2 linked regions of the Homo sapiens genome follow. The protein of the gene in region 1 purifies or fractionates together with the protein of each later gene. This does not show direct contact. Each region holds a gene or a part of one and is shown on either strand. Other genes may lie near its edges. The genes, in order: FNBP4 and MTUS1.

Region 1 (4,297 bases):
TTAAGTCTCAAATGAAATAACATATGCAGTTGGCAAATACAAAATGGTATAATGTAGTTCTGAAATTTCTCTCACATTCAAATTTTAGCTTTCTAACCCACACTGGGGTGTTTTGTTTGTTTTTTTTTTTTTAGGTGGCAAATGGTGAGGAGAGAGGAATAAGCATCTATCATTTTAAGCATCAAATAGTACAAAAAGTATTCTGAACTGAAAAGAAATTACTACCAATTATAGAATATTTAATATTAAAACACATTTTACTCTTCCAAGATACACAGAGTAGAGAAAATTAACATTCCTGGCACTTACTATGTCACATCTGGAAATATCTCAGAGATAAAAGATCCATTTTACAGATTAATGAGGTTCAACCCAATTAGTAATTGCGCCAAAGTCTAAGTGTGAATGCCAGAGTGATGAATTGAACCCAGGTTTGTCTACAAAACCACTGTTGCAACTATGGCATTCCTTTGTACTTGAAAATATTTAATAAGATCAATTTCCAGGTCCACCAATGTTTGTTAGGTAACCAATCAAGCCAGAGTGTTAGAAAAGGAATAGGAGTTGGCATGCCTAATGAACACCAAGCTAGTGGGAGGACCAGAAAACTAGTTATAAAATAGCATCAGGAAAAAAAAACAGTAAAAAACGTTTTGGGTAAAGAAAAACAACAAATTTTGCACTGGTCAAAGTGTATATACATCAACATTCTCTCACAAACAAAAATAATCTTAAATCATATTTTTGGGAGAAATAATGTTAGCAACACTAAAGCATTCAGCAAAACATTCTATGTACAAACCCAACTTGACTTTAATGAAAGACGTGGGAGAAAAAATGTAAAAAACAAAACAAAAGCATACCTGTTGCTTTAACAGCTGTGGGTCTAGTGGTCATGACTGGTTTTGGAGGATTCTGAACAACTCTAGGAACCTCCTGCACCGCTTCCTGTTCATCTGGATTAAAAAAAAAGAAAAGAAAAGAAAAGAAAAGAAAAGAAAAGAAAAGAAAACTGCAGTCAGATTCCAGACCAGAGAAAACACTAGAGGTGACAAACCAACCTTTGATTTAACATTTCAGCTCTAGATTCCATCAATTTTTTAAAAAGTGCATTTCGGATGGGTTCGCACCTGTAATCCCAGCACTTTGGGAGGCCAAGACGGGGGGGGGGGGGGGCCACTTGAGGTCAGGGGTTCAAGACCAGCCTGGCCACCATGGTGAAACTCCATCTCTACTAAAAATACAAAAAATAAAAAAATTGCTAGGCATGATGGCACTCGCTTGTAATCCCAACTACTCGGGAGGCTGAGGCAGAAGGATCGCTTGAACCCAGGAGGCAGAGGTTACTGCAGCCTGGGCCACAGAGGAAGACTCCATCTCAAAAAAAAGAAAGGACATTTCATTGACCCAAATAATTGGGAGATAATAAACACAGAGCTGGAATCTTTTTTTTTTTTTTTTTTTGAGACGGAGTTTCGCTCTTGTCGCCCAGGCTGGTCAAACTCCTGACCTCGAGTAATCCGCCTACCTCGGCCTCCCAAAGTGCTGGGATTACAGGCATGAGTCACCGTGCCCTGGAGTCTTTCATCTGCTTACAAACTTCAACATCAAGGGAAGACTCTTACCATGGTAAATAAAAATTATTAATACATCTGCATGGCCGGGCGCGATGGCTCTCGCCTGTAATGATCGCTTGAGCCCTGGAGTTCGAGACCAGCCCGGGAAACATGAACTCCGTCTCTACTGAAAATACAAAAATTAGCCGGGCATGGTGGCAGGGTCCTGTAGTCCCAGCTACCCAGGAGGCTAAGGCGGGAGGATCGCTTGAACCCGGGAGGTGGAGGTTGCAGTGAGCCCAAGATCGCGCCACTGCACTCCAGCCTGGGCGACAGATTGAGACATTGTCTCGAAAAAAACAAAACAAAACTCTTAAAAAGTTACATCTGCAATACTTACAAATACATACAAAAACAGTAAGTATTCTCCAGGCTATGATAGGACCTTTACAAGACACACCAAACACTGCTATTGCGGATTTTTTCCAATTAACGAACCAGCGTGATCTCTGAACATGTGAAACGGTCGCGGCTTCTCCGGCGCCTAGTCCTGGAGTCACTTTTAATCTAAGCACCACTCCAGTGAGAACCACACAAATACTTAGGAACCTACCAGCTCCATTTCTCCAGCAGTTCTGCTAGTGTGGGGATGCTTACTAGCTGGAATATTAAGAGCTTTTTCTAAACGTCTCTATCCCCGTTTCGACAAAACCGAAAGGAGGCAGATGACGTGTGGAAAGGCCTGGCCCACAGTCACAGGCCGCGCACGCGGAAACTCATCCTCACATCCACCCTCTGCGTTACCCAAAACCGACCCGGGGCGTTTGGGAGACTCAGGATGCCCGAACTTCGGTCATATTTCAAACGTTCCCGGGGCAAGCCCTGCACCACAGATGGCGCCTCGGGCTTGGCCCGGGCCGAGGGCGCAGAACTCGGCCTGGCCCTTCTGCGGCCCGGAGCCCAGGGCCGCCCCGCCTGCAGGCCCGCAGCAGGCAGGCCTCGGAAGCCGACCTCGCCCGCCTCCCTCGCCGGGTCTGGCCAGGCGCCGTGAGGAGCCTAGGCCGCAAGCCCTGAGCTCGAGTTCAGGTCCCCCCGCGCACCCTTGCCTTCTGAAGGCGAGTCGTCCGAGGCCGCGGCGGCAGTCACCGCGGTGGTGGTGGTCGTCGCCGCCGACGGGGCGGGCTGGCTGGGGACCGCCGCGGTTGAGTCCGGCTCAGTGTCGGGTTCCGGCTCCGGGTCCCGGCCCGGCGTGCTGCCCCGAGGACCCGGCGGAGAGAGTTGCAGGATGGGCCTACGGCCGGGTACCGCCCGGGACTTCTTCCCCATCGCGAGCCCAAGCGCGAGCAGAGAGCGTCGGGCGGCCGAGAGGGGCGGGCACTGGAGGCTGGGCGCTGGGCCCTGGGCGCTGCGACGCGTAATCAATATTCATACACCGTGACACCGCCTCCAGCCCGGATCCGCTTTCAACCAGCGGAGCACGCGCTTGCGCAAGCGCCTCGGACCCTTCGGCTCTTCTGGCTCCTCCTCACCAGGAGAAAGGGCGGGATTACCAACTGCGCTAGGCGATTGGCTGTTTTGACCCAGAGAAGGGACCGGTGGCCAATGGAAAAGGAAAAAGGGTGAGAGTCCAGCCAATAGTGCGGTAGGGCCTGAATTAGAACGACTTCCCCACTTCCGTCGGGTTCCACCCATGCGCTTTCCCCAAGCCTTTTCTTTGCCTACTTGTCCTCCATCTTGTGGCTATTCTCGGCCTAGAGTTTCATGTTGTCTGTCTTCTAGAAAGGTGTGCTGCTGGGCCCAGCTCACTCACGCCTGTAATCTCAACACTTTGGGAGGCCGAGGCGGGTGGATCACGAGGTCAGGAGTTCAAGACCAGCTTGTCCAAGATGGTGAAACCCCGTCTCTACTAAAAATACAAAAGATTTAGTCGGGCGCGGTGGCAGGCGCCTGTAATCCTAGCTAGTCGGGAGACTGAGGCAGGCGAATCGCATGAACCCGGCGGCAAAGGTTACAGTGAGCCGAGATCGCGCCACTGCACCCCACCCTGGGTGACAGAGTGAGACTGTCTCAAGAAAAAAAAGAAAGGTGTGCTGTTTTCTGAGCCCTTCCCCACGTTTCGCCCGGATTATTGTGGCTTACTTTGGGTATAGCATTGAACATTAAATGGGACAGTGGGTCTTTTACGCTTTTGTAATTTCCTGCAGCACACAAATAGATGTCTCATATTTTCTCGCTTATTAGCTGGGAAAAATCACGAGATACTCCACTACCTACAAGGAAAAAGCCTAAAATTGTTGGGATGGCATACAGGAACCTTACCAGTTTTGTACTACTATCGTCAACATGCTTTAATTTACCCTTGCTTTAACACTGCCCCCTCTCCCGTCTCCTGCCTCTGGAGCCCGCCACTTGGAGCATCACCTCCCTCACTTTTCCTTTGCACTGACTGGAATAATTACTGCATCACATGATGAAAGTCTTTTATTGTTTCATCAGGGCGCAATGCAGACGCAGTGCAGGCGTGACCTCTCCTGCCCAGCCTCTCCCTGGCACTTGACATCCTGTTGACATCCGTCTCCCCTCTAAACTAAGGAATGCGAGTGGTATTTATTTTTATATCCGCAGCAGCTCAGTTCCCACTAAAAATATCTAATACTTACTGAGCTCTATGTGTCAGTCACCAAGCACTTTACACGTAGAATTGCATTTGATCTTTTAAAATGATTATTTCTAATTTTATT
Region 2 (4,328 bases), on another chromosome or scaffold:
TTTGAATAATGGAGATAATCTGACCTATATACCCCTGGGTTTTGTAGTCAGGAAATAATGGATCATTGTACATATGAAAAGTCTTTACAACTATCAATGGCAAGACATCTGTCAGTTATTCTAATATTCATGGTATAGAAAACTGTGAAATACAGAGTCCTTACGTCTATTCTCCAAAAAAGTTCACTTCTCTTTAAAAGCTTTTAGCAAACCACAATCCAGGTAATTAAAAAGGAAATATTAAAATTTTGTTCTCAGGTTGTCTGACATTTCACGGTTCAGCAATGTGACATCTCTCACAGGCAGAATAGCATCTTCGGACAAGTTTTCTATTAAAAATATGCTTTATAGAAGAAAATATTTTACGGACCTAGAAGACAGCTGTCGATGAAATTTGCTCAGTTTAGCAAACAGCAAGGACTGTGTTTGTGTTTAGAGAAAAGTAGGTCGAGCCTAGTTTATCTCCCTGGGGTTCTAGACTCCTTTCCACGTTGTATCTCAAGCTCTAATAGCTGGAAAGCTACTTTCTTTAACCTTTAATACACACTTGCTAGTAAACTTGCTAGAAGCATGAAGATAATACAGACTGCGAATCAGCCCTTCTAAGAGACAATCACGACTCCTTCCTTGCAAGCTTCCGCCCTGATAATTCTGCAACCTTCCCACCTTCTATACGCCCCGCGGTGCGAGGCCCCTCGGCCTGCAGGTGGCCAGAGGCAAGCAGGAGTCAGATCCCCCACCTACCGCGGCCCGGCCTGGGCCCTAGCGCTGGGTGCGGCGGAGCCCCGGGCTCCTGCGGGGACGAGCGTGGTCCCGGGACGCGCGGTGCAGCCAGGTGCGCCGGCGGCAGTGGCAGCCGCTGAGCGCCGCGTCGCACGTGGCAACAGGTGCAGCGCTGTCCCGGGCTGGCGCCGGGGGGCGTGGGGCGCGTCCGCACTTAGTCCGGGAGCGCGCGGAGCGTCGGGATTGGGACCCGAGAGCGGGAGCGGAGAGCGGGAGCGCCCGAGCGGAGTCCAGCGCCCCGAGGTACGGCCTCGCACGTCATTCAGGTTCCCCGAGGGCCGTCCCCTGGGACGGCGGCTGGCCTTGGTCTCCCGCAGCGAGCCGCTGGAGTGGAGCCTTCGGAAGGAGCCGCCCCGGGTTGGGGCGGGAGGCCCGAGTTCGGCTATTTACAAGTTTCCCGAACTCCCCGCCCTGCTCCACCCCCTGGCGGCCCCGGAGGCGGGGAGGCGGGGAGGCCGGGGCTCCGGGTCCCGCCTGGTAGCCGCCGCAGGCGTGGGGTGGTGCCGCGCCGCGCGCCCCCAGGTGCAGACGCCGCCCCCGAGACCTCCGGGGCGGGTTCTCGGCGACCCCGCCAGTGGTGCAAAGGGCGCCAGCCCTCCCCGCCTCTGCGTCTTTGCTCCCGGAGCGCTTGAAGGAGCTGCGGGTAAGTGCGCGCTGGAATCTGTTCCCGCTGCCCGGCGGCCGGGGTGGGGAGGGGACAGGCGAGCGCGCCGCCCAGGGTGACGGGACCGGTCCTCGGGGAGGGGAGGGGGCGTTCCAGGGGCCTGGGGGCCGAAGCTGAGGGCTAAAGGGGGCGGCAGCGCCGGCGGAGCGGAGGCGGGTCTCACGTGGGCCAGCGCAGAGCCTGCGGAAGGGACGGATGCGGATCTCGTCGCTGTCACCTTGAAAGTGACCGAGGGGCTTGACTGTGGACTCCTTACGCCGCCCACCCGGGCCCGGCGGTCCCAGCCTTCTCGCAGGGCCCCTTCTCAGCAGAAGCAAGCGGGGCCGAGAAAGCGGGTGGAATAGGGTTGCTGCAGGTCCCAAAGACCCCTCGTGGCGCCTCGCTACTTTCTGCAGCTTGTTTGCACTTTTTCACGCTCTAGAAAAATCTCATCTTAATTAAGGTGACCTTATTGACTACTCTATAGTGCTTAGTGGACTTAGGTGTTCACTGAGGAACGTTTTTGTTCTTTTTTGAAGACGTACTCCTTTCTACCAAGTTGTTTGTTGATTTTTGACTTGGAGTAATTTGGGACTAGGAAGGAAGAGGTTAATTCATTTAGCCTGCGTAGTTACACATACTCTGTTAAATACTGTTTGTTTGAAGTAGTCAGTGTTCTAAGAAAGGAAATCCAGTGTGTTTTGTTTGTTTCAATGAAACCAAAGTCTTAGGCAAAACGGTGCGTGGAAGCTTTCAAGTTTTGCCAGGTGCAGGTGATCGAAAGTCAATCATCACTAAATCACAGCGCTGGGGCTGGAGGGTGGGAGTAGGGGTGTTACCAGTGAATTTCAGGAGGAAGGGAGGCAATGCAGGAGGGAGGGGATTAAAAAAGAGAGTCATTGCTTCCTGGGAACCAGTGACCTCTTTAAGGAGGGTATATACAAGATAACAGTGCATGGACAACTTTAAAAGGAATTGCATAAACGGAATTGCAATTCTGTAGACAGTTTGCTTTTTCAGGGATGGTTAGGGCAGGAAATGATACACAACTTAAAATGGTGATGTCCTGTTAGTACAGTGCTTTACAGTGTAGAAAGTGCTGTTACAGATTTTTTTTTTTTCATAGGCAATATATTCCATTAGGAAAGCTATACAAAGAAAAGATTAGAACTACATGCTTATCCTTAAAACCAAAGCTAAAAAACCTTAGAAGTGGAATTTAGTTTAAAATAATATGTAGTTATTTATGTAACTTGCACCACGTTTTTTCACCTGTTCTTTTTAAAATCAGGTTTATGAAGAGAAAATAATTCTTGGTAAATCTGCTTGGTAGAAAATCATGCTTGGAACAAGACCTTTTAATTATGTCAATAAGTCAAGGTTACATTTTGGAGTATAATAGGATTATAAGATTCTAGATAATATCTTATATTTTTTGGAAACTAACCTGCAGTTATTACACTCAAGCATTTAAAAAGCCTGTTACTTAATAGCCCTGTTCTGTTAACCCTGTTTGTTTTGATTTCAAAAGTAATCCGTGCTTGCTGTATAAAAATAGGTAGATTGAGAAAAGTGAGTTAAGCAATTTCAGCAAAGATAATCACAGTTAATATTTAAGAAAATACTTGTTAATATATAGAAAAATTTTTTATAGTTATATAGTTTATCTAAATATACTATTGCGTGGAGGTTTTTTCCTGATTAATGTATCATGAAAAATTTTCCATGTCATGAAATCTTCAGAAATCTTAGTGGCTACTTAATATTACATTACATAGATGTATCAAACTGGTTTTCATTTATTTCCACTTACTAAATATACTTTTGCAACAAATACGTTTTTAAAACTTTATGTGCAGGGTTAATATCCTTAGTGCCCTTGAAATACAGTTGATGGTTGGAAGATCTCCTCATACATATTGACCATTTGCTTTCCAAAAAATGTTTAACCAAATTATGTTCCCACCAGCTCTCTGTGAGAATACTGGTGTTACCGTATTCTTGTCAACATGTAGAATCATCCTTAAAGGGAAAAAAAAAAAATTCTTCCCAGGTTTATAGGTGAACAGTGCTTTCTCTATATTTAAACTTCAATTTCTTTGATTACAGATGATTTGAACACCAAAGAAATCTAGTTGTTTTCCATTTTGAAATTTGATGTAGTGCCAGATTTTTCTCCTGGGATATTAGTATTTTTCCATTAATTCATAAGAGCCTTTTATGGATTGATAGTAAATCTTTGCCATTCATATTGCAGATACTTTTCCCATTTTATCTTTGCTTTATATATTTACAGTAGTTTTGACATACACAAATTTCTTTAATGTTGATAAATCTGTTGACTTTCTCAAAACAGAATTTTTAACACTTCTAAATCGTAGCTTCAGAACTATATGTGACTGTGGTAGAAGATTTAAAAAAAATTTTCCAGCCGGGTGCGGTGGCTCACGCCTCTAATCCCAGCACTTTGGGAAGCCAAGGCGGGCGGATCAGGAGGTCAGGGGTTCGAGACCAGCCTGGGCAACATGGTGAAACCCCGTCTCTACTAAAGATACAAAAAATTAGTCAATTGTGTTGGCATGGATCTGTAATCTCAGCTACTTGGGACGCTGAGGCAGGAGAAGCGCTTGAACCCGGGAGGTGGAGGTTGCAGTGAGCCGAGATCACTCCAGTGCACTCCAGCCTGGGCAACAGGGCAAAACTCCATCTTAAAAAAAAAAAATTCCCCAAATTCTAAATTAGAATCTTTTCAAATTCATTGCAAGAACTTCCATATCTTGGGTTAGAGACTGTTGCAAAACTAATTGCATTTGTTGATGAGAAGCCACTGGGCCTGGTATATACTATTAGGAACAACATCCTTTGAAATCAGAGCAGAAAGTTTTAAATCCCTAAGACTGAA

What was found.
Region 2: the proteins of FNBP4 (region 1) and MTUS1 purify together in Homo sapiens (affinity purification with mass spectrometry; one large-scale study listed by BioGRID and IntAct). This does not show direct contact.

What each region holds. Positions count from the first base shown.
Region 1 is NC_000011.10:47,764,407-47,768,703, forward strand, and holds the start of FNBP4 (formin-binding protein 4), read right to left. Parts: upstream 2,936-4,297; 5' UTR 2,883-2,935; coding exon 2,663-2,882; coding exon of another isoform or gene 2,657-2,662; intron 2,215-2,656; exon of another isoform or gene 2,170-2,214; intron 957-2,169; coding exon 864-956; intron 1-863.
Region 2 is NC_000008.11:17,798,159-17,802,486, reverse strand, and holds the start of MTUS1 (microtubule-associated tumor suppressor 1), read left to right. Parts: upstream 1-1,392; 5' UTR 1,393-1,426; intron 1,427-1,569; exon of another isoform or gene 1,570-1,889; intron 1,890-4,328. UniProt on the Homo sapiens protein: Cooperates with AGTR2 to inhibit ERK2 activation and cell proliferation. May be required for AGTR2 cell surface expression. Together with PTPN6, induces UBE2V2 expression upon angiotensin-II stimulation.